Linked DNA regions of Homo sapiens: all the other regions are linked to region 2. The links come from fine-mapping of genetic effects on gene expression. A gene starts in region 2. Each other region holds a variant in brackets. All regions are shown on one strand. Distances are from middle to middle.

Region 1 (10,625 bases), 60 kb before region 2:
CTTTTACTTTTCCCTGACTGGAACGTTCCTCCTCGTTCACCTGTGATTTATTCATTTTTGATCCCAGCTTAAACATCACATCATCTAAGCCCAGGTGGACTCCTCTAGTTTCACTGACCTCTTTCACAGTTTCTATGGCATCTTCCTCATTATACTTTCAAAAATCAGCTGTTTACTGTAGCTTTTTATATTTGAAGACATAATAAACTCTTGTTTACACCCAAATCTTTAGAATAATAAACCATATCAGTGAGATGTTAGTAAGAGACAAATAGTCCTTCTCTGGGGGTACTTGGTGGGCTAACTATCTGGACTAAAATGGTAACTATCTCCAGACTCACAGCCAGTCCCAGAGGATGTGCCTCTGCCTTGTGGAAGATGTGGCAGAGAGTGGGTTCTTAGTAACTGCACTAGTTCCCAAGGGCTGCTATAACAAAGTACCACAGATTGAGTGGCTTCAACAACAGAAAAATACTTTGTCATAGTCCCGGAGGCTAGAAGTCTGAGATCGAGTTGTTGGCAGCATTGATTTCTTCTGAGTTCTCTCTCCTTGGTTTGCAGATGGCTGCCTTCTCCCGTGTCCTCATCTCCCCTTCTTATAAGGACACCAGTCATGTTGCATCAGGGCCCACCCCAATGACCTCATTTAACCTTAATACCAATTTAAAGACCCTGATATGGCTCAGCTGTGTCCCCACCCAAATCTCATCTTGAATTGTAGCTCCCATAATTCCCACCTGTTGTGAGACAGGCCCCATGGGAGATACTTGAATCATGGGGGGAGTTTCCCCCATACTGTTCTCATGGTATTGAATAAGTCTCACGAGATCTGGTGGTTTTATAAGGGGGAACCCCTTTCACTTGGTTCTGATTCTGTCTTGTCTGCTGTGATGTAAGATGTGCCTTTCGCCTTCCTCCGTGATTGTGAGGCCTTCCCCAGCCATGTGGAACTGTGAGTCCATTAAACCTCTTTTTCTTTATAAATTACCCAGTCTTAGGTATGTCTTTATCAGCAGCATAAAAATGGACTAATACAGACCCCACCTCTAAATACAGTCACATTCTGAGGTACTGGGTGTTGAGTTAGGACTTCAAGATATGACTTTGAGAGCAGCAGGAGAACACAATTCAGCCCATTACAGTAATGAATGAATGAACCTGTGAAGATTTCACATGCCACCACTTGAAAGAGTCAGCTCTCAAGAGTCACCATCACCTCCGGGAGAAGATGGGGCCAGGCGGTCATAAACCCTCATCCACTGCAGTGGGTTAAATTGTGGCATAAAAAGACATAAAAAGATATGTCCATGCCCTAACACCTTTCACCTGAGAATATGACCTAACATCCTGGTTAGAGTGGGCCCTAAATCCAGTGGTAAGTATCACCATAAAAGAGACATGACCAGGCATAGTAGCTCACACCTGTAACCCCAGCACTTTGGGAGGCCAAGGCAGGAGGATTGCTTTAGCCCAGGAGTTCAAAATGAGCCTGGGTAACATAGTGAGACCCCCAATCTCTACTAAAAATTGAAAATTCAGCCAGGCGTTGTGGCACATGCCTGTGGTCCTAGCTACTTGGGGGGCTGAGGCAGGAGGATTGTCTGAGCCTTGGAAGTCAAGGCTACAGTAAGCCATGATAGGGCCACTGCACTCCAGCCTGGGCAACAGAGCACCCTGACTCAAAAAAAAAAAAGAAAAGAAAAGAAAAAAAAAAAACTTGAAGAGAAGGGAGAAGACACATGGAGAAGGGGCTGTGCAGATGGAGGTAGAGATCAGAGGGATGCGCCTATGAGCTAAGGAACGCCAAGGATGGCGGCAGCCTCCAGAAGACAGGAGCCAGACGTGGAACGGACTCTCCCTGCACCCTGCAGAGGAAGCCAGTCCTGCCGACGCCTTGAGTTTGGACTTTTGGCCTCAGAACTGTGAGACAATAAATTTCCGGGGTTTTGGGCCACCGGTTTGTGGTAATTTGTTACAGCAGTCACAGAAACCTAGCACCTCTACTTCCATTAAAGGGAAGGGAGACCGTGTTCAGGAGATCTGACCTAGGATAGAGAAAGCGAGACACTTCAAAGCTTCATCAGGACAGGTCTGGTTGCTTGAAAAATAGTCCAGTTACCAGCCTAGCCAATCTGAAGATAGTTAGCGTTTTGGCACAGATCAGGGGCCCCCAACCCCCCGGCTGTGGACCAGTACCCGTCCATGGCCTGCTAGAAACCAGACCACACAGCAGGAATTGAGCGGCCGGTGAGCGATCATTACCACCTGAGCATGGCTTCCTATCAGATCAGTGGCGCCACTACATTCTCACGGGAGCACGAACCCTATTGTGAACTGAACATGTGAGGGATCTAGGTTGCCCGCTCCTTATGAAAATCTAATGTGTGATGATCTGAGGTGAAACAATTTCATCCCCAAACCATCCCCAACCCCAGTCTGTGGAAAAATGATCTTCCATGATATAGGTCCCTGGTGCCAAAAAGGTTGGGGACCGCTGGCACAGATACTTAGCCCACTAAATATCCCCAAAATAGAACTCTCTCTTATACCAGGCCTGTTTATTTAGTACCTTGAGGTTGCAGGCATTCTCTCTCTGGCAGATTAAGGACAGAATTTCCTTGTATAATAATAATTTCTTAAATGTTTACTTTCACTGAAGGGTTTCTTTCCCAGAAAGTTTGAAATTAATTTGCTTCGTAATTTCTGGCAACAAATACCGATAGCAAATTTCTTTCCTGGCTTTTGTAATCCCAATGACATCACGGAACCTCCGTCACTGTGGGAAATCGTTCTTCTAGGTAGCTGTGATGATATCACTTGCTATGAAGGAAAGGAAAAAAAAAAAGAAACAACAGGAAATTCTGCATTCAGCTGTTAACTGATAAATGAAGGAGGAAATGGTTTTGAAAGTAAGTTCCCATAACTAAGCAGCCTTCTCCATTACTTAGCTTTATTTATTTAATGTATTTATTTGCACAATCTCACTGGTAGTACAAGTCCCTAGTCAAAAAGGCTTTTCACTCCCAGCAAATTAGGGAACATAGGCCAGAGCCCCTCACTTTGGGGGACCCCTGTTCACACAGAGGATCTAAAAAAAGATCTGGGCAAAGAACAAAAAGAAAGAGAGGGAAAGGAGGAGGAAGAGGAAAGGAGGAAAGGGAAGGGGGAAGGGAATAAGATGAAATGAAATACAGATACCAATAAACATTTGACCTAGGTAACCTCACTAATTGTATTAGACAAGGTTCTCCAGAGAAGCAGAACCCATAGGATGGGTGTGTGTGTGTGTATGTATATGTATGTGTGCATGTGTAATTATATATAAAGAGACATTTAGATTAGTTTAGCTAATGATCACCCAGGGAAGCATAAAGGTGAGATCTCAGAAAATCTGGAAAAGGAGCAAAATTGTGGAAGCAGATCCACCTGGCAAGCTGTTCATAGGTGGCCTTAATACAGAACCTAATGAAAAGGCTCTTTAAGCAGTATTTGGGAAATATGGCCACATAGCAGAAGTTCTTTTGATGAAGGATGGGAAAATCAAGTCCAGAGACTTTGCATTGATTACTTTTGAGAGCCCTGCAGATGCTAAGAATGCTGCCAACGATATGAAGGGAAAGTCTTTGGATGGAAAAGCAATTCAAGTAGAGCAAGCCAACGAACCATCTTTTGAAAGTGGTGTTAGGTGGAGACCACCATCTCCTTCGAGAAACAGAGGCCCTCCAAGATGTCTGAGATGTGGAAGAAAAGGTAGTGGAGGAGCAAAAGGGCATCCCTCAGGTGGAGGACACATGGATGATGGCGGATACACTCTTAATGCCAACATGAGTTCTTCTAGGACAGGGGTCCCCAGCCTTTTGGGCACCAGGGGCCAGTTTCATGAAAGACAATTTTTCTATAGACCAGGGGTCGGGGGGGATGGTTTCGGGATGAAACTGTTCCACCTCAGATCATCAGGTATTAGATTCTCATAAGGAGCACAAAACCTACCCATATTATGGAGGTAATCTGCTTTACTCAAAGTCTACTGATTTAAATATTGTTTTGTTTTGTTCGAGACAGGGTCTCATTGTGTTGCCCAGACCGGAATGCAGTAGCACAGTTATGGCTCACTGCAGACTCAACCTCCAAGGTGCAATTGATCCTCCCACCTCAGCCTCCCAAGTAGCTGGGACTACAGGTACACATCACCAAGCCTGGCTAATTTTCTTTTCTTTCCTTTTTTTTGTAGAGACAAGGTTTTGTCATGTCGCCCAGGCTGGTCTTCAACTTCTGGGCTCAAGGGATCCTCTCCCCTAGGCCTCCCAAAGTGCTGGGATTACAGGCATGATCCACCGTACCCAGCCTAAATTTAAGTCGCATCTAAAAAGATACCATCACAGCAACGTCTAGACTGGTGTTTGACCAAAAACTGGGTACCAGAGCCTAGCCAAATGGACACATAAAATTAGCCATCAAGCTAATAATAAAAATAGCAAGTATGATTGACAATAAGCTATTTTTTACCCAGCAGGTTTACAGGGATTAAAAAAGAATCTCACTCAGTTTTGTTAAGGAATAAGAGGACACTTGTGTACCATTGTGGGCCTACAGACATCAACTTTTCTGAGGGCATTTTGACAGTATCAAAATGGAAAGTGCGTATACCTTTTGAGAAATAAAAATAAAATTCTTTTTTTTTTCTCTTTTTTTTTTTTTTTTTTTTTTTGAGATGGAGTCTTGCTCTGTCACCCAGGCTGGAGTGCAGTGGTGTGATCTCAGCTCACTGCAACCTCCACCTCCCGGTTCAAGTGATTCTCCTGCCTCCGCCTCCTGGGTAGTTGGGACTACAGGTGCCCACTGCCACGCCTGGCTGTTTTGTGTGTGTGTGTGTGTGTGTGTGTGTGTATTTTAGTTGAGATGGGGTTTTACCATGTTGCCCAGGCTGCTCTTGAACTCCTGAGCTCAGGCAATCTGCCCACCTCAGCCTCCCAAAGTACTAGTATTACAGGCATGAGCCTCTGCGCCTGGCCTTTATTTTAACTCCTGACCTCAGGTGATCCACCTACCTCTGCCTCCCAAAGTGCTGGGATTACAGACATGAGCCACTGCACCTGATCATGCATTTTAACAAATAAGTCCTTTCTCTCTGACTTTTCTTCCATCACAATCTTCCTCGTGTCAGAGAACTCTGGAGTGCCCCTGGACACTATGGAATCTGGCTTGGGGATACGCGAAGTCGGGTGTAGTGGATGTGTGTATGTGTTTAGTAATCACTGCCATGTCGTCTTGTTATTGTACAGATGGTCCCCAACTTATGATTTT[T/C]TGACTTTACAATGGTGCAAAAGTGGTACACACTCAGTAGAAATCATACTTGGCATTTTGAATTGGGATCTTTTCCTGGGCTAGCAATATTCAATAGTACTCTCAAGATGCTGAACAGTGGTATCAACCACAGCTGCCAGCCAGCCATGAGATCAGGAGGGTAAACAACTGATACTGTACTCTACAATGTACTGTATTCAGTACGTTACATGAGATGTTCTACACTTTATTATAAAACACGCTTGTGTTTGATGATTTTGTCCAACTGTAGGCTCATGTAAGTGTCCTGAGCACAGTTAAGGTAGGCTGGGCTGAGCTATGATATTCAGTAGGTTAGGTGCATTTCCTTTTTGTTCCCTCTTTTTTTTTTTTTTTTAGAGACAGGGTCTCACTTTGTTGCCCAGGCTGGAGTGCCATCATGCCATCATAGCTCACTGCAGTCTCTACTTCCCAGGCTCAAGCGATCCTCCCCCCTCCATCTCCCAAGTAGCTAGGACTACAGGCATGTGCCACCATGCTTGGCTAATTTTTAAATTTTTTTGTAGAGACAGGGTCTCATTATGTTGCCCAGGCTGATCTAGAACTCCTGGGCTCAAGCAATCCTCCCACCTTGGCCTCTCAAAATGCTGGGATTACAGGCATGAGCCACCATACCTGGCTATATTTCTGACTTAGGATATTTTCAATTTATGGTAGGTATATCAGGATGCAATTCCATCTAAGTTGAGGAGCATCTGTATTTGTACCTAAAATTGTATTCTTTATTCAAGAGGGTTTCCAAAATTATAACATTTCCCCAGTCTCCTCAAAGCTAGGTCTGCCCACACACTGAGGCACAATGTCATTTGCTTCAGACTCATGTCTCTATCCCCCAGAGTAATCTTGGACTTTGATGGCTTTGTCCTGATCTTAGTTTTATAGCATTGTACTTGTAGGTTGGCCCCTAATTTCCAATTAAGTGCAGCCCTTAGCTCAGAGTATGGCTTCTAACCCACACTTCTTTGTTCATTTTCTTTTTATACCTCTCTCCACCATTCCTCTGCGTACACACACACACACACACATACACACACACACACTCTTAAGTATCAAAGGCTGGAGTGCAGATTGGCCGTGAGTCATTCTTTAAAAATGAGCTTGAATGGACAAGGCAAACAATTTTCAGGAATGCCCACAGTTGCCTGTCTTTATTTTAGAGGACTAGAGTAGGAAATCAGGCAGGTGGTCTGTCTTTGAATCGAGGCTGTTTAATGAGACAGAAATATTTCCAACTCTTCACCTAACAAAACAGTGAACGAATAAAATTCTCTTAAATTAGGAAAGATCCTCAAACCAAAATCTCAGAAAAAAATTTTAGCACACACAAAGTGCTCTAGAACTATTATTAACAGAAGCTCATTTTAGATGAAAGCACACCCATTACTGCATATGGACTCTATTTCCATCTAAAATGTCCTGAAGGAGAGTTTCTTCCATGGACCCATATTCAAGATCAAGTTTTTTGTTGTTTATTTTGGGGGAGGAGAAGGAGTTGTTTTCATCTTTCCTTCTTCCATTCAATGCTTTTCCAGGAGTGTTAATATCATCTATGTTGTTGTTGTTGTTATTTTATGTTAACCTTCATTTCTCTGCTAGATTTTTAAATCATTTTCTGTTTTAATTATAAAAGCAATCCAGGCCGGGTGCAGTGGCTCACGCCTGTAATGCCAGCACTTTAGGAGGTTGAGTCAGGAGGATAGCTTAAACCCAGGAGTTTGAGGCCAACCTGGGCAACACAGTGGGACACCATCTCTACAAAAAAATAAAAAAAATAGCCAGGCACAGTGGCACGCACTCAGGAGGCTGAAGCAGGAGGATCCTTTGAGCCTGGGAGGTTGAGGTTGCAGTGAGCACCACTGCACACCAGCCTGAGTGACAGAGCGAGTCCCTGTCTCAAAAAATAATAATAATTGCTCCTCGGCCTTTTGGCTAAGATCAAGTACAAAAGAATAATAATAAATATTTTTAAATAAAAAGCAATCCATCACCTGTACCCCCCACAACTTTCTAACGTGTATTATCACCTTTGACTTCCTCAAATCCTCTTCAAGAATCACCCATCCCTATTTCAAGACTGGCGGACATCATTCTATTCCTTTTATAGGGCTTTGCTGTTTCCTAAAACACTTTCATTTTCTGGTGGCAATAAAAGTAGTCTGGTGGTGATACAAACTAATGTTGTTTTCTTTAACACTTACAGCTCATCTGTAGGATCACTTCGATTTGCACTCTTTTTGCAAAGGCAAAACATCTAAAGAAGAGACAGTATCCATACACTTGTCTACTCATTATTATCATTCGAGACAGACAAAACGCCCACCTGGGGAGGAAATTCCCCATGAAAAAGACAGAGTCATGTGAAGGTATGTAAGATTATATTAATCATCTTTATTACTGCATGTATTGGGATTTTGGGGGGATGCATAGCAAAACGCATCCCCGAATAGCCTTGCTCACAGTAACAACACGTTGTTAAATGTGCCTTTCGACTCAGCACCCCCATGTGGCCACTCAGACAGTAAAAATGCCCCATGGTTGTGCATTTCCACGTGGGAAACAAATTTTATTGATGGAAGAACATTATGGCCCCTAATTTTTCTTTTCTTTTTTTTTTTTTTTTTTTTTTTGAGACGGAGTTTTACTCTTATCGCCCAGGCTGGATACAATGGCACATTCTCGACTCACTGCAACCTCTGCCTCTGGGGTTCACGTGATTCTCCTGCCTCAACCTCCGGAGTAGCTGGGATTACAGGCACCCGCCACCACACCTGGCTAGTTTTTTTTGTAGTTTTAGTAGAGACTGGGTTTCACCATGTTGGCCAGGCTGGTCTCAAACTCCTGACCTCAGGTGATCCACCTGCCTCGGCCTCCCAAAGTGCTGGGATTACAGGCGTGCGCCATTGCACCCAGCGTCTGGAACAACTTCTACCAAGAAACAGTCCCACTTTCTAAGAAACGCAGTGCCATCTTGAGAATGCCCCCAGTACCCGGTTGTTCCAGAAGACAAACCAAGGGGAAAAAATACCAGGAGCAAATCTCTTGGCCTCCTTCAAGGTGAAATATTTGCTAACTGTGTTGCCTTGTTGTCTTATTTGGATTGGAAGCCCGTTTAGCAGGAATTTGGTTTACATAATGGTTTAGGACAAGAATGATCAAGATTGAAGTTTAAGCTTTTCTCTTTCCTGGAAGCCAGGTAGCCTGAACGTAACTGATTGCCTCGTCTTTTCCCCTCTTGCTGTGTCCAGGTCATGAAAAAATCCATGATGAGGGCACAGAGGGTTTCTTCTCTGGGTGACCAAATGAGACTTCACCAAAGTAGAGAAAAAAATTCGCCATGGGGTATAGGGCAGTCATCATTCATGCATCCCACAATGGTTTGTTGAGTGATTAGTATGTGCCAGAAGCTAGGCTAGGCACTGCGTGAATAAAACAAACACAACATCTGCCCTAGTGACGCTTGCTGTTGCACGAGAAGCAAACATTAAACAAATACTCATACATGTCAATATAAAGCCACAGTCTTGGTAAGTGCTAGGACATCAAGCACACAGAGCTGGGAATGCCTATGATAAGGGGCTTTACCTTAATGTTGCCAGCGTTTAGATCTGAAGGATGAGTCAAGGTTAACAGGAAGAGAGGGAGGGAAGCATGTTCTGGGCAGAGGGAAGAACATATACATAGAGGCTGAAATTCAGAGTTAAGGGAAGGGGCAAGTGTGCAGGACGCCTCCAGAGAAGTGGTCAGGACCATGTGGGGCCTTAGGTTTGAGTCTTCATCCTAAAAACAATGGGTCTTTAGACTATCAAAGGCCCTATGATTTGGTGAGTATTTACCTGAGAGAAACGAAAACTCATATCCACAAAGGACTTGAAGACAAATATTCATAGCAGGCTTAAAATAGCTCCAAGCTAGAACCAACCCAAATGTCAATCAACAGGAGAGTGGATAAATAAATTGCCATAGGCTGGGCATAGTGGCTCACCCCTGAAATCCCAGCACCTTGGGAGACTGAGGTGGGTGGATCGCCTGAGGTCAGGAATTTGAGACCAGCCTGCCAATATGGTGAAACCCCATCTCTACTAAAAATACAAAATTAGCCAGGCATGGTGACACGTGCCTGTTGTCCCAGCTACTAAGGAGGCTGGGGGCAGGATAATTCACTTGAACCCAAGACGAGGAGGTTGCAGTGAGCCTAGACCATGCCACTGCACTCCAGCCTGGGTGTCACAGCAAGACTCTGTCTCAAAAAAAAAAAAAAAGCTATATATTCATATAGAGCATCCACACTCAGCATTTAAAAGGAATAGACTTAGCCAGGCGCAATAGCTCACACCTGTAATCCCAGCATTTTGGGAGACCAAGGTGGGTGGATCACCTGAGGTTAGGAGTTCGAGACCAGCCTGACCAACATGGAGAAACCCCCATCTCCACTAAAAATACAAAATTAGCCGGGCTTGGTGGCACATGCCTGTAATCTCAGCTACTCGGAAGGCTGAGCCAGGAGAATCACTTGAACCCAGGAGGCGGAGGTTGTGGTGAGCTTGCGCCACTGCATTCCAGCCTAGGCAACAACAGCAAAACTCCATATAAATAAATAAATTAAACAGACTACTGATCACACGCCACCACAGGAAAATTTCAGAAAGATTATGTGCAGTAAAATTAACCTGACACAAAAAAGTCTATGTTGTATGACTGTATGAAATCCAAAAATAGACAAAACAAATCTATGGTGACAAAAATCAGAAACTGGTTTCCTCTTTGGGTAGCAGGTAAGAAGAGGGTGAAATGGCAGGAAATGGGGAGCAAGGGAACTTTCTGAGATGATGGTATAGTCTATTATCTTGTTTAGGGTGGTGGTTTCACAGGTATATCAAAACTCATCAAACTGTACTGAAGATCTGTGCATTTTATTATTTGTCTATATCAAAAAGTTTTTAAAAAGTTAAATACACATGCTAAAGTGTTGAAAGCACAGAAATGACACCAGATTTGCACCGCAAAAAGAGCACCCTGATTTTGGTCTAGAGAAAGATTAGAAAGGGCTAGAATGGAAGTGGATAGACCAGTTTCTCTCCTTTATGTGAATGACCTAGGAGCCAGTATACCCTTGAGCGTTAATGAATGTCAGCCCCTCGCCTGAATTTAATATAGAAGATTTCAGACTTCACCTGGCTGACTCCCCAGGAACCATTCAAAACAGCTGTCAATGGACAGGGGCATTTAGCTGGAGAAAAAAGGCTGGGAAGCTGGGGTAAGACAACTAAGGAAGCCACAGGAAA
Region 2 (10,625 bases):
ACATGGTGGAACCCCATCTCTACTAAAAATACAAAATTAGCCGGGCATGGTGGTACATGCCTATAATCCCAGCTACTTGGGAGGCTGAGGCAGGAAAATCACTTGAATCTGGGAGGCGGAGGTTGCAGTGGGCCAAGATCATGCCATTGCACTCCAGCCTGGGCAACAAGAGTGAAACTCCATCTCAAAAATAAATAAATAAATAAATAACCAGACATGGTAGTACACATCTGTAGTCTTGCTTACTTGGGAGACTGAGATAGCAGGATCACCTGAGCCCAGGGAGGTCGAAGCTGCAGTGGGCCAAGACTGCACCACTGCACTCCAGCCTGGGCAACAGAGTGAGACTTCACCTTGAAAAAAAAATAAGGAAACATTCATTACCTGATATTTTACCAATGGAAGTAATTCTGGATATAGAAGTAGCAGAAGCTCTAAATATATAATTAGGACCAATGCCAAAGTTAACAGCAATTAAGCTCAATGTGCCAAAAGAATTTCAATTAACAATAATTTCTGTAATTTATGAGTTATTCTTGTTACATATATATATTTAATTGCATTTTGAAAGAGCTATGAAAGCTAAAAGTTGTCCCATCTTCAAATGCTCAGTATTTTACCTTGCTACAGAAAAGGAAGTACAGTAGAAAGTATACAGGACAAAGTAAGGTGGGAGATCCAGATTTTGGTCACAGTTTTTGTTTACCAAATATGTGACCCTGGGTGAACTTATGAGGGCCACAGAACTCAAGTTTCTTTACCTTCATAAAGAGGATAATACTACATGGGCTACCAAAATCAAAGCTGTTATAAGGATCAAATGGCTTAACATGCTTTGAAAACTGTGAAGTGTTCTACACTCCCGGGCTGACTGACCATTTGGGAAATTTTAAAATATTCCTTCTAGAATATAAGGAAGGCTTTTTATTTTTGCTCACTGAACTTTCTTCCTTAATCATGATTTCGCTTTGCCTCCAATCTTACTGTCCTTCCCTTTTTTATTAAACATCAATAATAACAGTAATGAAACTTTCTTTAATTTTAATTTTTTATTTTTGAGACAGGGTCTCACTCTGTCTCCCAGGCTGGAGTACAATGGCACAATCACAGCCTCGAACTCCTGGGCTCAAGCAATCTTCCTACCTCAGCCTCCTGAGTAAGCTGGCTCCCTCCTGGGACCACAGGCGTGTACCACCTCGCCCAGCTAATTTTTGTAACTTTTGTAGAAATGAGGTTTCCTATGTTGCCCAGCCTGGTCTCAAACTTCAGAGCCTGCTTCAGCCTGCCAAAGTGCTGGTATTACAGGTGTGAGCCACCCTGCCCAGCCCTTTACTTTCAATAATAGTAGCAACAGGAACTTTGCAGTATAAGGGACTTTTCGGATATAAGAAGTTAGGTCACTGAGTATTAGGATAACTGATAATGGAATGATTTTCTAGGGTAACCTAATTCTTAGTTAACTAGATATTTTGAGAGTTAACTCTAAACCATTCAGATTACTTGAACAAACACTGATAGATCTCCTATCATGAATGAGAGGCCCCAGGGACACCAAAATGAATTAGATCCAGTACAAACTTAGTGGGAAATCCAGTGGGGAAAAAGATATATAAATAATTTTCAATTATTCAGGGACACATTAACTGGTTTTCTGATGGGCCTGTGTGAGGACTAATTGTTTCAAAACATAGTCTATGTAAAAACTGATTGGATGTGACTTCTCATTAGCCTAGGAGCTGGGTTCCTGCAAGGCAAAGAGGAATCTAAGAAGTAAGAGTAAGGGTCTTTCTCCCAATTCTCAACAACAAAAATGCTCCTAGATAATCAAAAGCTGATTGCAGTTTTGTTGTGACTTATTTTGGTTTATATCCAAAGTCTCTTAAGCAATGTCCTGTTCTATTTACTGAATTCTAAGTTGATTTTACTTTGAATATAATGTAATAAATGTTTCTATGTTTAGGGCCCTAAAAAATGGGAGAGTGGGGCAAGCAAGGAAGCAGGGATGGAAAGCTTCCTATAAGAGCAGGATTTGGTGGCCAGGTGCGGTGGCTCATGCCTATAATCCCAGCACTCTCGGAGGCTGAGGTGGGCAGATCACTTGAGGTCAGGAGTTTGAGACCAGTTTTGGCCAACATGGTGAAACCCCTCCCCTGCTAAAAATACAAAAATTAGGCCAGGCGCAATGGCTCACACCTGTAATCTCAGCACTTCGGGAGGCCAAGGCAGGAGGATCATTTAAGGTTGGGAGTTCGAGACCAGCCTGGCCAACATGGTGAAACTTTACCTCTACTAAAAATACAAATATTAACCAGGCCTGGTGGTAGGTGCCTATAATCCCAGCTACTCGGGAGGCTGAGGCAGGAGAATCACTTGAACCTGGGAGGCAGAAGTTGCAGTGTGCCAAGATCATGCCTCTGCACTCCAGCCTGGGAGCAAGATCCAGTCTCAAAAAATAAAATAAAATAAAATAGAGTAGGATCTGGCAAACTTTTGAGCATTCTATTCAACAAAGGTGTTTACTGAGTAAAATATTTTCCTCGTCTCAAGCATAACAAATTGCCTATTTATTACTTTACTTATACTCCATTCTTCAAATAGCTCTTTTCTCCCTAATTCAATAAGCAAACTTTCAATTACAAATGGTGGTAAATAGGAAATAAGAAAGAAGAGACAAAGGTCAAGGTCAAGCAGAGTTGTATTTAAAAAGTCAGCTGCACTTGCATGTTTATCAGAGCACTATTCACAATAGCGAAGACATGGAAACAAGCCCATCAATGGTGGACTGGAAGAATATGTGGTGTATATGCATACCATGGATTATTACACAGACATTAAAACAAATAAAATCATGTCCTTTACAGCAACACAGATGCAGCTGGAGGCCATTATCCTAAGTGAATTAATGCAAAAACAGCCAAATACTACATGTTCTAACTTACAAGTAGGAGGTAAACATTGGGTACATATGGACACAAAGATGGGAACAATAAACACTGGGGACTCAAAACAGAATGGAGGGATGGAGGGAAGAGTTGAAAAACTACCTATTGGGTACTATGTTCACTATTTGGGTGACGGGTTCAGTTGAAGCCCAAACCTCAGTATATGTAATACATCCACGTAACAAACCTGCACATGTACGCCCGAATCTAAAATAAAAAATAAAAATAAAAAGTTGGCTCACATAGTTTAATATAAAAAGGCAAACCTACTGTTGCCTTCTATACATGTCTACTTTAGAAATGGAAAGCTTCCTATAAGAGCTGTTTATAAGAGCTATAAACTCTGTTTACAGACAGGAAAAGGAAAAAGAAAGCACAGTTGGCTGAGAAAAAAGACTTTAATACTCTATTTACTTATTTGGGTCCATGCTTTGACTGTCAAACATGTATTAACAAGCTTTCGAGAAAATACTAACTATATACAGTTCTTTAGAAAAGAAAGGCAGAAATTACATTTCATTTTTTTAAAAATGGCTAGGTACATAGAAAAAACACAATGACAATCCACCAAAATATTAACAATGATTATCTTTGGAAGATGGGACTGTGAATTTACCCTTTATTCGCACATTTTAAGAAATACTAAAAAAGTAATCACGCCACTGCACTCCAGCCTGGGCGACAGAGCCAGACTCCGTTAAAAAAAAAAAAAAGAGAGAAATACTAAAAAAGTAATACATGTAATCGAACAAGAGAAAGTTACCCTTGACCAGTCCCTTACTCCTGCCCTCAGCCAAATCCCAAGAGTGGGCTACACAGATAACCACTGTTTGGTCCAGACCTTTTACCTCTGCATTTATGCATATGCACACATGCATATGATGGATCATCTTTTAAACATACAAATAAGATCATATGATAGATATATATAGATGTGGTTCTGACATGCTTTTTTTGTTTCTATTTGGAGATCTTTCCATGTCAGTAACAGCTACATGACAGTCACAGTTCAGATGTACCATAATTTATCCATTCCCCTCCCCAACCCACATTTTTTTTTAGAGGTGGGGGTCTTGCTATGTTGCCCAGGCTGGTCTCAAACCCCTGGCCTCAAGCAATCCTCCCACCTCAGCCTCCCAAAGTGCTGGGATTACAGGCATGAGACACCACATCTGACCTATCCATTCCCCTTCTGACTGACATTTAGGTTTTCTCCCACTTTCCATTGCTGCAAACACTCCTGCAAATTACAGGCATATACAATAACTAAATGCTTTAAATTTTCTTAATTCTTAAAAGTTTAAAAGTTTTTAAACATTAAAAAAAATTTCACTTACTTTGGACTGGAAATAAATGTTTCAAGATAGTTCTCTTTGACATCACCCATTTTACTGCAGCTACAGCCATGGTGTTTCAAGATGCTTATCAAGTGGTATGAAAAAAGATGTTCTGAAGAGAAACTGCTTTTAGAATCTGCTTCTAAGCATACCAATTTCTACTCCTGCTGAAGAGATAAAGAAAAATCAGTGCTACCTATGGTAAATTTAAGTTATATTAAACACCACAAGAACAAGGTAAGAATCACTGCCTAGAAGTCAACTGAAGCAATGCTTTTAAACAACTTGGCAATTCCACATGATTGAACAACAGGACGAAGAGCGACATGGACAGAATATAAGATCAGAACCACTGGAACTATGTCCATTACTATTTATCTTAGATACAAACTTCTCTGCAGGACCCAGTGCAGCTCCTTCCACTTAATGAATACTCAGTAAATGTGTAATTACTCTTGAAACAGTCACTCACAAATGGTACACAGAGTATTCATTCTTTTAATGCTAGTGTGGCTGTGTACACCCTCCAAGGTTCCATACACAAGATACTACATCATTTACAGTACTATCCTGTTTCTGATTAAATGAAATAGTTGTCTGCCCTGAGCCATTAATAATAATAATAATAATAAAGAAATATCAAACAAGGCCTATCCTTAGCCTATTACTCAATTGGAGGAACTCATAAATGCCCTCAAGTCCCAGATAAAATTTCACCATCTTATATGTGTACAAAGTCTTTAACTTTCCAACGTACTTTCACCACCATTTCATTTTGCTCTCGTATTAATCATGTGAGGTATCTTTATTCTGATTCATGAAGAAACTAAAGTACAAAATTTAAACGTCTTGCTTCCAAGGACTTTAGAGTCAGTCACTGCCAAATTGGGAAACTTTAAACAAGTCATTAACTAAACGATCCTCAGTTTCTCCAATGACAAAATGGGGAAAACCACAATCTTCATGGCCTGTTGTGAATAAATGACAAATAACCATTGTTAAATCTTGTTTTTAATAGTCTTCAATGAGTATCCGTGCCCTTCCCCCCAATAGTGATAAAAGAGAATTAGGACACAGGCCCTCTTATTTGCTAGTCTAAACCACTCACACTGATACCTTGCACTGCCAGTACATTAACACCGTTAACCCTGAGCTCATAGGTGTGCTTTTTAGTTTACAACCCACTTTCATATACAATATGTGCTCTGACTTTCACAAGTGTGTGAAGCAGCATCTCCATTTCAGATTAAGAACAAAGGCTCAGAGAGGTCAATCGATTACTTGCTCAGTATATCGCTGCTTAATACATGCGTGGGACGTAAACCCATGACTTCTGACCACGAATAAAACATCTTGGGGGAAATTAGGTCCCCTCTGTCCGAAGCCCAGAGAAAAGCACGCCCTGCTGGGAGTCAGATTATTCACCCCAGGAAGATCATTTCAGAGATCAAGTCCCTCAGCCCGGAATTCAACCCCAAAACAAAAGCTACAGAGCCTCTGAGGGTCAGAGGTTTGAGGAACAGGCTACCAAGAGCACCAGAACTCTTCGACCTAAAGGAGTCCCTAGAGCCACAAGCTGCATCACCTCCCCACGGGCGTCCGCCAGGGAACAAAGGGGGCGCTATAAGAAACGCGCAGCCACATGCCGGCTCTTCTGCAGGAAGGACAAAGGCTGGGGATGCAGGCAACCTCGCCCTGCCGGGAACGACAGGCGGGAGACCTCTACAACTGCCGACCAACACTGTGGGACTGCCCAGTTTCGAGGAAGTCCTCGACAGGAGGAGTAGAGGGAAGCGGTTACCTTGACGGCTTCTCACCACGAACCCGCCATCTTGTTTCAATCCTGGTCCCACGAAACAGCGCTGCGCGCGCCGTCCCAGCCCGCGGGGCATTCTGGGAAATGTAGTCTCCGCGGGAAAGCGGCCCGGGTGCAGAGAGAAAGGGAGGATTGTTGCTATGGACTTTTACCTTTAGTTGGGGAAGCGTGGCCGCAGTGTTACTAAGGTGCCCAGAAAAACAAAATCACTGCCCCAAACACATACCCTTAGAAAGTAACAAGCTTTTTTTTTTTTTTTTTTTTGTGAGGCAGTCTCATTCTGTCACCCAGACTGGAGTGCAATGGCTCCCTCACGGCTCACTGCAGCCTCTACCTCCTGGGCCCAAGAGAGCCTCCCACCTCAGCCTCCTGAGTAGCTGGTACTACAGGCGCACACCACCACACCCAGCTAATTTTTTAATATTTTTGTAGAGACGAGGTCTCGGTATGTTGCCCAGGCTTGTCTCAAGCAATCCTCCTGCCTCGGCGTCCCAAAGTGCTGGAATTACAGGCATGAGCCACCATGCAAACCTATAAGTACTTTTTAAAAAAATTATGTTAATATTCAGAGAAATCGTAGATTGCTCTTTAGTAGATGAGTTAAAGTTTCCCAGGGGAAGAGACATTCCAGAGAAGCCCTGAAATGTGGAGGCTAGGATTTGGACGTTTGAAATCAGAACCTGAAGAGAACCTCCACTCTGAAAACCTGGCACTGTGCCCTCAGAACTGTGCTGGCTACCTATTATGGGAGGAAGTAAATATGCAGAATCTTGGACCTCGCTTTCCATCTTAGGAGGAAGGAAAGACCTCTGGGCCTTTGCACTCTCTGTTCCCATTGCCAGCAATGTGCTTCTCTGACCTCTTCTCATGACCTTACAGGTCTTTCTCAAATATCATCTTAGAAAGGACCACACCATTAAAATAGCCTCACCCACCCTTATTCCATGCCCCGCTTTATTTTCCTTCAGAATATTTACCATTACCTGACTTTATATTGATTATTTGTTTGCTCGTTGAATGTCTCTTTCTTTTTTTTTTTTTTTTTGAGACGGAGTCTTGCTCTATCGCCCAGGCCGGAGTGCAGTGGCATGATCTCAGCTCACTGCAACCTCCGCCTCTCAGCTTCAAGCGATTCTCCTGCCTCAGCTTCCTAATTAGCTGGGATTACAGGTGGCCACCACCACGCCCAGCTAATTTCTGTATTTTTAGTAGAGATGGGGTTTCGCCATGTTTGCCCGGCTGATCTCGAACTCCTTACCTCAGGTGATATGCCCACCTCGGCCTCTCAAAGGGCTGGATTACAGGCGTGAGCCACCACACCCAACCTCGTTTAATGTCTCTTATGCTGGATAATGTAAGCTCCTTGAAGACAGAGACATATGTCTATCTTGTTCTTCACTGTATGCAAACCCAGCATCTCAGACTGTGCTTGGTCTCATTATAGGTCTCCAGGAAGTGTTTGCTGAATGAATGAAAAGACTAGATAACGCTGCAAGTATCCAAGACAGTAGATGATTGGCTGGTAAAGCAGAAGCGGTCGCCTGGAAATTCCCTTCTCCCATGATTTGCAAAATTTTGCTTTTGTATATTTTTCTAAGAAATAATCTATAGCTTTTATTATGTATTCCAGGGAATTGATAAACCCCTCAACAAGTTAAGAACCATATTCCTGAAGTGACTAGTATTGAAAGTAAGTGAACACACATCACATAGTAAAGAAAACTAAATACGGGCTGTGTAGTGTGTCTCCTCATTTCCCACGGAATATCAGGAGGCTAATCTTTGCTCTTATAGAAGCCCACAGAGGGCCCATCTGTGTCCTTTCCAGTCGTGTCCATCCTCCAAAGCCACCCATGATGTCTTTCTGGACTGTGCAATAGGAAGGGACAGAGAGGAGAAACAGATTTGAATGAGCAGTCAACTGGACTGGTTGAACATTCCCTGCGTAAAGTGTAAGAAGAATGGATCAAAGATAATTCCAGAGGTCAAGTCTTGATGGCTGTGAGCAGAGTGGGACCAGTCCCCAACAGGGAGACTCACTTAGTGGGACCAAGGAAGGTCTCACAAAGCTGAGACCAGAAAAGAAACCAACATTTTTGGGGGAAGAGAGGGGAGAGACAGGTTTAGGCTGAGTGAGGGAACAACTTACACAAAGGTTTAATGTGGTGGAAATAGCTTACCATATACTGGAGTAGGGTGGATAGTGTGGATGAGAGCGGCAGGAGATGAGATTTGGAGCCAGGTCATGTTGGGCTTCATAAGCCTTGGAGGGGTTAACATGGAGTTAGGACACAGGACATATGTAGAGATTAAATAGAGTAGGTGGTGCTGTGTGCCTGTAGTCCTAGTTACCCTGGGAATGGGAGGCTGAAGTGGGAGGATTGCTTGAGCCCAGGAGGTCAAGGCGGTAGTAAGCTATGATCGTGCCGTGCACTCCAGCCTGGGTGACAGAGTGAGCCCTGTCTCTTGAGATTTTTACATGAAAGAAGTGACATAATTTGATTTCCATTTTTAAAAGGTTACTCTGGCTGCCCTGGGAGGAGTGGTTTGGAGAGTGGCAAGACCGCAGGCAAGTCTAGCAAGGAAGCTACTGCAGTACTGCAGTCAAGAAATCATGTGATGGAGGGTGGTGGCAGTGGAGATGGAGAGACAGGAAGAGTCCAGATGTATTTTGAAATTGGAAGTGATGACTTAACTTGCTGATGGATTGATTGAGAGGGAGGAAGATACTTCAGGTGATGCTTTGATGACTAGTTGACAGTGGTGCCCTTCATAAGACAAGGAAGACTGAAAGAGGAACAGGTTTGGGGAGTCTGATGATGGTGGAAATGCATACTTCCGTTTGGGAGTTGTTGAGTTTGAGATGGCTCTGAGACACTCCAGTGGAGATACAAAACAAGTCAGCAGCCTGGGCAATATAGTGAGTGAGGCCTTGTCTCTACAAAAAATAAACAGAATTAGTAAGGTTGATGATGCACACCTGTGATCCCAGCTACTAAGGAGGCTGAGGTAGGAGGATCGTTTGAGCCCTGGAGGTTGAGGCTGCAGTGAGCTATGGTCATGCCACTGCACTCCAGCCTGAGTAACAGAGTGAGAGCCCCATCTCCAAAAAAACAAAAAACAAAAGGCAGGTACTTGAAGAGGTGTGTTTGGAGAGTAGAGGTTGGACTAGGTATAGAAAAAAAAAGATAAAGGGCCTAGAAGCTGGCCCCAGGGAATTCGAAGGCTTAGAAATCAGATGGAGGAGGATAACCTTTAGCAAGGGCCTCCCAGGAGTGGCAGTGAGAAAGGTAGAAGGAAAACAAATACTGTGATGTAAGAGTAGTTAAGAGAGGCCATGTCACAAAGTGTTCCTAACTTAAGAGGTCAGTGCTAGCAACTTAAAAAGTATAATTTCCAAAAATACAAACTTGAAATACCAGCAAATAACTTATATTGGCCTACATAAAAGTGCTTTATTTTATTTTATTTATTTATTTTTTTAAGACGGAGTCTTGCTCTGTCACCCAGGCTGGAGTACAGTGATGTGATCTCGGCTCACTGCAACCTCCACCTCCTGGGTACGAGTGATTCTCCTGCCTCAGCCTCCTGAGTAGCTGGGATTACAGGTGCCCACCACAATGCGCAGCTAATTTTTGTATTTTTAGTAGAGACGGAGTTTCACCATGTTGGCCAGACTGGTCTCGATCTCCTGACCTCAAGTGATCCGCCCACCTCAAGTGATCCGCACACTTCACCCTCCCAAAGTGCTGGGATTATAGGCATGAGCCACTGTGCTCAGCTACAAATGCTTTAAATTCATGCTAGTAAAATGACAAACAGACAAAATTCTAGAACTTTGGAATTGGCATCAAATGGCTTCCATTTAAAAGAGGATTGCCTTTTCTTCTGTAACTTCCCAGAAAAAAAAGTCATTCTTTGTATCAATCAGAGAGCAAAGACTCCAGAGCAATCTTATGACCAAACTATTAGGAATGATCTTTCTGGCTGGGCACAGTGGCTCACACCTATAATCTCAACACTTTGGGAGGCCAAGGCAGGCGGATCACAAGGTCAGGAGTTCCAGACCAGCCTGACCAACATGGTGAAACCCCGTCTCTACTAAAAATACAAAAATTAGCCGGGCGTGGTGGCACACGCCTGTAATTCCAGCTACTCAGTAGGCTGAGGCAGAAGAATCACTTGTACCTGGGAGGCAGAGGTTGCAGTGAACCGAGATCACACCACTGCACTCCAGCCTGGGCGACAGAGTAAAACTCTGTCTCAAGAAAAAAAAAAAAAAAAGGAATGAACTTTCTAAACACTTAAACAATTATTGTTACTGTCATTTTACAAACAGAAGTAACAGAGGCACAGAGAGGTTTGAACAACTTGTTCAAAGTCACACAAGTTACTGTGCTTTGAACCCAGGAACTACTATTACCAGTGCTCGTGAACTTAACCACTGTGCTAGGCTGAGCCATGCTTATTTCAAAATACAAAATATAGATTAGACTAGGTGCTGTGGAGTGCACCTGTAATCCCGGCTAC
Region 3 (10,625 bases), 63 kb after region 2:
GACCAACGAAGCCCAAGCCATAGAAACAGGTATCTAATATTCATTCTCCTTCACACCACTTCCACTTTTACAAATTTGTATTACCACTTAAACTTTTCTAAAGCTCTTGGCAAGGAAAAGAAATAGAAAAAAGTATAATAAGTGAGATCCTGCTTATAGTATGTAAATACGTCTTAACAAAATGGCTTGCTATGGGACCCCCCAAATATAAAGACAACCTGTAATTGAAAGATCTTGGAGTCTCTTGTAACTACACCTGGTTTAACAAATACTGAGTGCATACCATTTATCTAGTTATATGTAAAGAATACTGGAAAACTTGAACTGTTTTTGTAACCCATTTGATTAAAGTATTCAGCTGTTTATGGCTACGGAATTTGGAGTCAAGAAGCTTCTGCTACAGATTTTAAGAAAATTAGTGGGGAGAATTGTGTATCTAGAAATGGACAACTTGATTCATCCTCTTGAATTTTCTAGAACTTCTTAATTTTATTGTAGTGTTTTGGTAATTGGACATTTACAAAATCTTTCAGCCCTGATCCAATTTATAGAAAAAGGCGTGAATTTAACAGATTACAGCATGACATTTCCATAATTAATAGTGGTTGTTTGCCATTTATAGTTTGGAAAGTAACATATTGAACTAAGTAAAATAATAATCGTATGTTTGTTTCTGTCTACAGCTAGAGCATGGACTAGGCTATATGCCATGAATAATATTTAAATTGATACGATCATCAAGTGTGCATCACTTCTCCTGTTCTGCCAAGACTTCCTCCTCTTTGTTTGCATTTAATGGACACAGTCTTAGAAACATTACAGAATAAAAAAGCCCAGACATCTTCAGTCCTTTGGTGATTAAATGCACATTAGCAAATCTATGTCTTGTCCTGATTCACTGTCATAAAGCATGAGCAGAGGCTAGAAGTATCATCTGGATTGTTGTGAAACGTTTAAAAGCAGTGGCCCCTCCCTGCTTTTATTCATTTCCCCCATCCTGGTTTAAGTATAAAGCACTGTGAATGAAGGTAGTTGTCAGGTTAGCTGCAGGGGTGTGGGTGTTTTTATTTTATTTTATTTTATTTTATTTTTGAGGGGGGAGGTAGTTTAATTTTATGGGCTCCTTTCCCCCTTTTTTGGTGATCTAATTGCATTGGTTAAAAGCAGCTAACCAGGTCTTTAGAATATGCTCTAGCCAAGTCTAACTTTATTTAGACGCTGTAGATGGACAAGCTTGATTGTTGGAACCAAAATGGGAACATTAAACAAACATCACAGCCCTCACTAATAACATTGCTGTCAAGTGTAGATTCCCCCCTTCAAAAAAAGCTTGTGACCATTTTGTATGGCTTGTCTGGAAACTTCTGTAAATCTTATGTTTTAGTAAAATATTTTTTGTTATTCTACTTTGCCTTTGTACAGTTTATTTTACTGTGTTTATTTCATTTTCCCAATTTGACAATCGTATTTTAAAATTGAAACTGATGGAACATTCTTTCTTGGTCTTCACCATCTGACAAATTGAATGGCAAGAGGTGGATTTTGCCAGTTTCTTTTCACTGATGCAGATTTGTGTTAAGATAGTACTGAATGGAGTATTTATAAACTGGCCCTGAGCATGCATAAAGCATCAGTATCTGACCTTTTTTTAACCTTCTAGGAATTTGAAATAAATGTGTTTGTGTTGTCTGATTAGATGATCATTGGTGTCTTGCCACAATGTTTAAAAATTACTGTACAGGAAAGTCACAGCAAAGATAGCAGTTGTGACTGACATGTAGGACTTTCACAGTTGTGCCACATTTTTGCCTAAAATTTGGGTTATGACATTTTTCTTGGTTCTTATCTGAAAATTTCATCTGTAACCTTTCATGTGTGTTAAGAAACACTGATCTGATCATTTGGGATTTGCTGAGGCATTTGTGAGTCTTCCTTATAAACCTGATGAGCAGATCTCAACTATCTAGCTTGTGTGTCATCAGAAAGGTTTATCCCTTTGAGAGTATCAAGTCCTCAGTTAATGATTCTTGCTTTCATCCCTCCAGTATTTGCTGTGGGAGCTCGTTTTATTCTTTAATTTGGAATTCAGTAATTTTTCTTCTTTATTGACGAATTCCTCCCCTCACAAAACTGTTCTTTCCCACCTCTCTCCATATCTAATTCCTGATTCTTGTTATTTTTAAGTCATAAATGTAGCCAGTCATAAATACATAAATGTTAACCTTCGGGTTGCAACCTTGTCTCTTGCAGTTTAAGGTAATGGATATTGTAGCCCATTTGAATTTTCTTCACTCTTATTCTCGTAATTCTGGAGTTTCTTCAGATTGTGGTGTATTTTATTGTGCTCCTATGTAAGATGAAGAATTAACTATTAAAATTACATTTTCAACATACAAAAGCTTTTGATGACTGGTAACTGGTATCCTTCCAAATAAATGCATTGCTTGGTAACAAATGTTAGCTTAATTCAGAATGAAATAGTTAACAACCCTAATATTGTAAAATTTGAAAACTGATAGCAGCTGTCATTTATAACAATTCTTGGGCTGTTTAAAGGGTACATTTGACTATAGCTAAGGAAATTGAATCTCACTTTAAAAATGAACCACACAAAACTTCAAGAAACGAAATAGAAATCAACATTTACTGCCCGTAATATTGCTCATGGTTATAGCTAGTATCACATAGTGATTTACAAACCATGAAATTCCAGATTTAAATCTGTTGCACTACAAAAATGTCTAAATGATGTCTGCTAAATTTGTGAGTTATAGAAGTACAGAAATAAGTCATTTTCATTTCAAATGCAGTGAATTTCTAATTTCATGGTATCATATTTTTTTCCTTTGCAGTTTTGGTAAGACTCCCCCATTACTTTGCTAAGACTTGCTTTCTCAACCAGTGGGATGAAACGAGTGCCAGTGTGTTGACTGAGCCTTCTTAGGACTTAAGGGGCTCTGGGAGAGGCCAAGGCAGCAGTTGAAAACTGCAGCTTCACCTGGCCTTTGGGCCTGTTTTCCCTGGCCCACACAGTGTGGCTGGTTAAAACATTCTGAATTTGATGCCAACATTTTTAAAAATTGGGAGATTTGCATGAAAATCCAGAATTCGGGTAACTTTTGAATGATCTGAAGATCTGGCAACAGTAGACCTGACCCACCTTTGTGCACGGGACTTAACTGAGAGGATCTGAGTAGCAGACACCCTAAGAGCATGTCATTGTCTTCTCACCAGTTACTCTCCAGTTGGCTAGAGTCCCCTCCGAGCACACCTGCTAGTCCTTCCCCCTTGTAAGCCTTTGACTTTGTAATCCCTGGGCTAAAGGAAACACATTATTCAACAAAAGTGTTTCATGTTTGCCCACTAGTTGTTGGGGATGATTAGGTGGTGAGTGAATGGCATGGGGCTTTCCTTTGGGGACCATATACTCTAATGGGGAAGGGGGACAGACAAATAGTTGTAACTCTGTCATGGAAAAGAGAAGTAACTTGGACAGACTTTTGGATTCAGGCCAGATGAACATCTCCAGGCAGAGGGAACAGCAGCATCTGCAAAGTCCTGGGAGAGAAGAAAAGAATCTGAACATTAAGTGGCTTCCTGAAAATCGACTGCCCAGGCCGGGCACAGTGGCTCATGCCTGTAATCCCAGCACTTTAGGAGGCCAAGGCAGGAGGATCACTTGAGTCCAGGAGTTTGTGACCAGCCTGGCTAACATAGTGGGACCCAGTCTTTATTTAAAAGAAAATTGCCCGTTAAGAGGCTTTTCTAAAATCTTGAGGTGTTGATAGGAGCTTTATGTTTTTTGACTTGATTGTTGTAGTCTACTTCGCTGCGATTTGCTTCTGCTCTAGTTATCCTTCATCCTCTCAAAGGCTGTCTAGCAAGATCTTAGGTCTAAAGTAAAGTCATCTCTTGGTATTTGTCGGGAACTGGTTCTAGGACTTCCTTTGGATATCCAAATTCGCAGATGCTCAAGTCTCTGGAATAAAATGATGTTGTATATGCATACAATCTACACAAATCCTCCCGCTTATGTTAATATTTAGATTACTTATAATACCTATTATAATGTAAGTGCTATGTAAATAGTTACACTATTGTTTAAGGAATAATGACAAAAATATACATGTTGACTACAGACACAATGTTTTTTGGAATATTTTGTCTGGTTGTTTGAATCCACGGAAGTGGAACCCATGGATATGGAGGGCCAACTATATAGAACCTTACTCTAGACCAAGAATGTACTTGTAAAACAATTTCAAAGAAGCACTTAAAAATAAGATTAAATACAAACCAACAGATAAAAGTCACAGGTGCTATGGTTGTTTGATGGAGAATGGGGAAGGAAATCTGTCCTAAAAGACATTATAAACACAGTGACCTAAGTGGAACTAAATTGGATCGAGGAAATGATAGGAATAGGCCTCATTTTTCTGTTGAATGGTTCAGGAACCTTTTTTTTTTTTTTTTTTTTTTTTTTTTTTGGCTGCTCTAGCCACTTTCTAGCTCTGTAGTTTAGGCTGGAGTGCTGTGGCATGATCTTGGCTCACTGCAGGTTCTGCCTCCCGCGTTCAAGCGATTCTCCTGCCTCAGCCTCCTGAGGAGCTGGGACTACAGACACCTGCCACCACACCTGGCTAATTTTTTGTATTTTTAGTAGAGACGGGGTTTCACCATGTTGGGCCAGGATGGTCTCCATCTCCTGACCTCGTGATCTGCCCGCCTCGGCCTCCCAAAGTGCTGGGATTACAGGCGTGAGCCACCGTGCCCAGCCCTGCCACATCTTTTTTGTTAGTTGCAGTAGCAATACAACCTTATCTAGAAAAGCTGGCCAAAAAAGAAAATACCATGATAATAGGGTACCTAATTTATTGCTTTATTTAAGAAAAATGTAATATTTCATTCGAATAAGTACTTTTGGGCTGGGATGATATTTCATTTAGCTACTTGGCATGCCACCCATCTTAGGGAATTATATGAGGGTTTATACTTTAAATAACATAAAAAGCAAAACATGCTGAATGTAATAATTTGAGAGAAGTGTAAATAATAAAAATCTGTCATCTACCACCTGGACTAGTAATATATTGTTTGTTTTCTTAACTATACACTCACCCCTGCACTCATCTCCATTTTATCGTGGAAGTCAGGTATATTCCAAGAGTTGGCTTTATGGTACTAACTTGCCATTAGCTGCCATGCTGGGAGCTGGACTAAAATTTTTCCTCTTGTGTGGAATCCAATATTAAGAGTTCGGGTCTCCCCGGCCCTCTCCCAGTTTCATCTTGTCACCCTTGAGCTGATCTCATTTCATGTGTCTTGTATGGCCCTGCTGGGTGGCACTGGTAAGTGTATGAACATAGACTTGATACCAACCTCTGTCTCTACTACTGAATTGATCACATGATTTTTCTTTCTCAGTTTTATTTTTAAAGACTCCTGATCCATCTTACCATATGACTGCTTTTGAAATAGTTCCATGATGTAGATTAGTAAATATCGATAGTTCTTAAGTTTTATTATAACCTAGTAAGTTTACAAAGTCTCCTGGCTTAAGGTCGGGAGTAGATATCAGATCTGGCAAAAGCAGCTTAGATGTGATAGGCTGATTGCACTAGATTGAACTTGGTGCTGTTTCTCTTAGGTTTTAACAGGACACATCAGGACTGAGCAACCAAGTAAGTCCAAGTTATTACAATTCATGTTGTTTTTTTCTCCTAAAACAGTAAATATTTCGGCCTTTGTGGACCATAGGTCTGTCTCAACTACTGAATTCTGCCATTGTAGTGAGAAAGCACCCACAGACGATTTGTAAACAAATGGGCATAGTATTTTTT[T/A]TAAAAAAAAAAAAACCTAAAACATTAAAAAAATTTTAAACTTGTTGGCCGTACAAACAGGCAGTGGGGTGGGGTTTGGCCTGTAGGTTGTAGTTCTCTGCCCTGCTCATGTCTATTTCCCAAAACATTTTTTAAACCATACAGGCGTTTAAAAACAAAATCTACAATCTGTACAACCTCATTTTAAGTGACTAAGCTTTTTCAGTGTATGCCAATACATGCATAAAACAGGTAGTTCTGTCTAGTAGTGTTCTGCCTTTTTCAATCACTATTGAAAGGACTCCCTGTGGCAGCACATAGCTCTTTGGTAACCACAAAGTATCCAGTAAATAGATTGCCATGACTTAATCACATTTGAATATTAAATTGGTACCAGTTTCATAAATCCTACAACACACATATTTGACCATAGCTTGGTTGTGCAACTTGTCCATTTGTTGACTAGACTCCCAGGAGTGGAACTGTTGGGTGAAAGGGTATGTATGCAGCTGTGATAAAATACTACTCAGTAGCTCTCCGACAGGCTGTATCAGTTTCCACTCAGATCCTTACGCAAATGTCATTTCTAATGACTGTAATATTACACCATATGGATATATTGCAAGTTAACCATTACAAATCCTTTGCTGCTGAGCATTTTATTTTAATGGCTTTTCACTCTAGTGCCTTGTCTTGGTATATGTCTTTGTCCACATTCCCGTAGATACGTTGAATTCCTAGTATATTTACTTCGTCAATAGGCATGTTTCTTAAGGTTGATAAATAATGATGGCCAAATGAAAGTACTTCACTAACATGAATTTGAGGAAAAGTTGAGAAAAGCAGGAAAATTTACTTCCATTGTCTGATACTGATTAGCATCAGGAGAGTGGGAGTCTACATATTGGGAGATGTTTGTCAAATGTTACAAAAATGCATTAAGAGTAATACCGGGTTATCAGAATTTGCTGAAATCATATCAAGGTGGAAGAATTAGAGAATAGTTCCCTGGCTAGAAGACGTTGAACCTTTGAGTGTTTAGGTCTTTGCTATAATGTCTTGCTTGCTAAGATAGGCCTTAATGGCCCTCTCATCGTACTGCTAGAATTTAGCCAGTGGCACCAGTCAGGAAGGTATTAAAGTAGCACCAGCGATAGATTACTTTTCATCCTGACTTTTGTCCTAGAGCTCCATAAAATGTGCATTTGGTGGGGGAAATCACGTCTACAAATAAAATTGTATTGCTTTTGAAGATGGTATAAGTCTATAGATAAAAAAGCTGTAAAACCTTGAAAAATACTGAAGGATGTAAAAACACCAAGATAGGCCAGGTGCGGTGGTTCACGCCCATAATCCCAGCACTTAGGGAGGCCGAGGCAGGCGGATCACGAGGTCAGGAGTTTGAGACCAGCCTGGCCAATATGGTGAAACCCCGTCTCTACTAAAAATACAAAAAAATTAGCCGGGCGTGGTGGCAGGCGCCTGTGATCCCAGCTCCTCGGGAGGATGAGGCAGGAGAATCGCTTGAACCTGGCAGGCGGAGGTTACAGTAAGCTGAGATTGCACCACTGCACTCCAGCCTGGGCGACAGTGTGAGATGCTGTCTCAAAAAAACAAACAAAAAAGCCAAAACTACACCAAGATAAATCACTTATCTCTACCCCACTAGAATATAAGCTCTTTGAGATTAGAAAATTGTTTTGTGCTCTTATCACAAATACTAGGCATAAAGAAGATGCTTATTATTGAACAGCAAATGCTTAAAAAGACCTGCAGGCCAGACGAGGTGGCTCATGCCAATCATCCTAGCACTTTGAGAAGGCTGAGGCTGGAGGACTGCTTAAGCCTAGGAGTTTGAGACCAGCCTGGGCAACACAGCAAGACCCCATCTCTACCAAAAAAAAAAAAAAATTAAAGAGTCCTATAGAGAATTCTTATACTCCAATGTGAAGACAACATTGGAAAGGGCCAAGTTTCTCATGCCCTCCAACTAAGAAACCCCTAATAAAAAATGAAGTGACACTTGAACAGGACTTAAGGATTCTACAGTTGGTCTTTGGCAGCAGTATGTTTTAGGAAATGTAATGCGGCGGGTGGGGCGGTGACTTAGCCAGTTATGCTTTTAAATGGAACTGCAATAATAAAAGTGATACTAGTGCAGAAAGTATCTGTATTAGAATTCTAGAGTAAGTCAAGAGCTCACATTCATTAAAATAATGACACAACTCCACGGGGGTGGGGAGAACAGCAGTAAAGCAACCACATACTATACTATTAGACTGGCAACATTGAGACTGAAAATATCCATGAGGAGAATACTGACATCTTAGTGGTAAGCATTTCCTTTTAACCCGGTAATTCCAGTAGTAAGGATCATACAAATGTACCGCTAGGAAGAGGTAACGTATATGATCATCAATGGGAGAACAGTAAAGGTGTTACTGTGGAATTCCCGACAGGCTTTCACTTGGAGGGGGAATATTTGAACACAAGTTTAAACAACCCAGGGTAAGCACACAATGCACTATGCACTGAAAGGTATACGTTTCCGCTGGGTGTTTATACATTTCAAAGTTAAAAGCATACACCTTACCCAAAGTTTCAGAAACCTGGTTTGCAAATCTGAGTTCATGTGTGTGTGTTTTTGTTTTTTTTTTAAAGCCATGATCATTTTTTCCATTTTTATTTGATGTTTCCAAATATAAAAAAGTCAGGATTCTTACATCAATTATCTCAAATGAGACCATGCAAAGCAATTCAGTGTATACAACAATCATTTTTCCCCTTCAGTTCTGCTGCTTTATACAACAGTGTGATTGACAGAAAATTGGATGGCATGTGCCTGGTCAGAAAATGTCATCTGTTTACAAAATAACATCATGCAGCACAGTTTCTACTTTGTCTGCAAGTCAATTCACAAAAACTACTTATTTTCTGTTTTTTATTTGGGAGGCACATGGAACTGAAAAATTTAGCTGCCCAATTTTATTCAACTACCCCACCAAAAAAAAAAAAAAAAAATCACAAATGACAGTCCCAACACTCTGCAAATTTTGGAGGGTTGAGATAGTAGACACTATTTGTCATACTCAGCAGAGTTAACTATTTAACAGAAATAAATCTCCCTAGGGCCTTTCCTCTCATTTTGCTAGACTGGGTTCCAGGAGAATCGTGAAGAACCCCTCATGTAAAATTTGAAGTGTGAAAACTGTGTTGTTGCATTATGCAGATTTTTGCTAGTTGCATAGACTAAAGACGTTTTGCTAAATGGCACTGAAAATCCTTACCGAGTGTCACTATTCAGTCCAAGTGTTTCTGACCAAAGAAAATTATACAACAATATTTATAGGCTAACTTTAAAGAGATGGTTGACGTTAATACTGTACATATTTTACATGTCAAATACATAGTCCAAGAGTTTATAAAATAAATTCATGCATCATTACCTTATTACCTCTAAGAATATCATGTACAAGATGGGCACTCCCCCACCCCCCCAGTACTTATGACAGCATTTCAGGTGGAAGCAGTCTTATATACAAAAACAATCCAGTTTCTCTGCTATGTTAAGTATATAATTTAAGGAAATTTCAGAGATTACTGACCAAAAAAATCTTAGTCCATTGAAGATAGAAAGTGTCAATTTGTGGGATTTAAAATGTTTCCTTTATAAAAGAACACCCAGAATATGTAACCTCTGTACAAAGAAAAAAATATAAAAATTCTGGATGATCATGTTTGATCACACTACGTACTTGAAATGTTGCTGGTTAAAAGTTTTTCTGCTTTACTCATTCCTTTGACAGCATTAATTTGTGAACATTTATATTCAGTTCAGCTGTATTTATGGCACAAGATCTCATTTCCAAAATGGCACTAATTTTCCTTAAGTGTAACAGCACTCTATTTTTAGCAGTAATTATATTTTTAAAGGTTAATTTGTAGAACAAATGTTTTAACTATACTTTTTTTCTACTCTATACTCCCCAGTTACAATATTTACAAAGGGCTGAAGTCTATATAAAAAAATGATCTTTGGCTGGGCATGGTGGCTCATGCCTGTAATCCCAGCACTTTGGGAGGTCGAGGCAGGCGGATCACGAGGTTAGGAGTTTGAGACCAGCCTGACCAACATGAAGAAACCCTGTCTCTACTAAAAATACAAAATTAGCCAGGCATGGAGGCAGGCGCCTGTAATCCCAACTACTCGGGAGGCTGAGGCAGGAGAATCGCTTGAACCCGGGAGGCGGAGGTTGCGGTGAGTTGAGATTGTGCCATTGCACTCCAGCCTGGGTGACAAAGCGAGTCTCAAAAAAAAAAAAACATCTTTTACTTTCCCCCATCCCTCATTTTAGTCAAACTTCTCCCACCTCATTTCTGCCCTGGTTGGGGAAGTGCAAGAGTTTCAGATAAGGTACCTATGTGTTTTAGATGGGATTCTTGATTTTAAGTGAGTATAAAGTAAAAGATTTAATTCTTAGTTCAGGTATGTTCCAGTGCCTCGAAAGTTAGTTATGTGACAAATAGTACCTGTTGACAACCTAGAAAAGATGAGACATTCTAAGGTGCCCTAACAATCTTCAGTCTCTAACAGCTGAACAGGAAGGCCATTTCACTCAACTGTGATGCGATCATCACTGACTGGCATTTAGAATTAGATTTCAAGACTCCACTCCTGTGGGGGCCACTAAATAACTGAATACATTTTAAGAGCAATCTACACTGAGGGAAATAACGGTTCTAAGGTATTCTGCAAAGAAAGAGTATCGATAATGGGAACTGGCAACTGAGCATGCTAAATCAAAT

What was found. PIP is the estimated chance that this variant, and not a neighbour inherited with it, causes the effect.
Region 1: its variant is fine-mapped to the expression of MRPL42 in neutrophils (BLUEPRINT, PIP 0.95). The same link has a PIP of 0.9 or more in esophagus muscle and monocytes.
Region 3: its variant is fine-mapped to the expression of MRPL42 in monocytes (Kim-Hellmuth 2017, PIP 0.90).

What each region holds. Positions count from the first base shown.
Region 1 is chr12:93,522,773-93,533,397 of GRCh38, reverse strand. It overlaps LOC124902985 (a long non-coding RNA gene), which reads left to right. Exons shown (of 2, transcript XR_007063408.1): 2 at 1-225. Among named protein-coding and RNA genes, the nearest start is that of SOCS2-AS1, 43 kb to the left of the region's middle. The variant T/C (reference allele first, on the strand shown) is at 5,305.
Region 2 is chr12:93,463,010-93,473,634 of GRCh38, reverse strand. MRPL42 (mitochondrial ribosomal protein L42) reads right to left here and starts at 6,121. Exons shown (of 6, transcript NM_014050.4): 1 at 6,081-6,121; 2 at 4,280-4,443. The coding sequence starts at 4,349. RefSeq lists enhancers at 5,900-6,169, 6,230-6,289.
Region 3 is chr12:93,400,138-93,410,762 of GRCh38, reverse strand. NUDT4 (nudix hydrolase 4) reads right to left here. Exons shown (of 5, transcript NM_019094.6): 5 at 2,617-10,625. It overlaps UBE2N (ubiquitin conjugating enzyme E2 N), which reads left to right. Exons shown (of 4, transcript NM_003348.4): 3 at 1-29; 4 at 684-5,079. The coding sequence ends at 724. Among named protein-coding and RNA genes, the nearest start is that of NUDT4, 28 kb to the right of the region's middle. The variant T/A (reference allele first, on the strand shown) is at 5,841.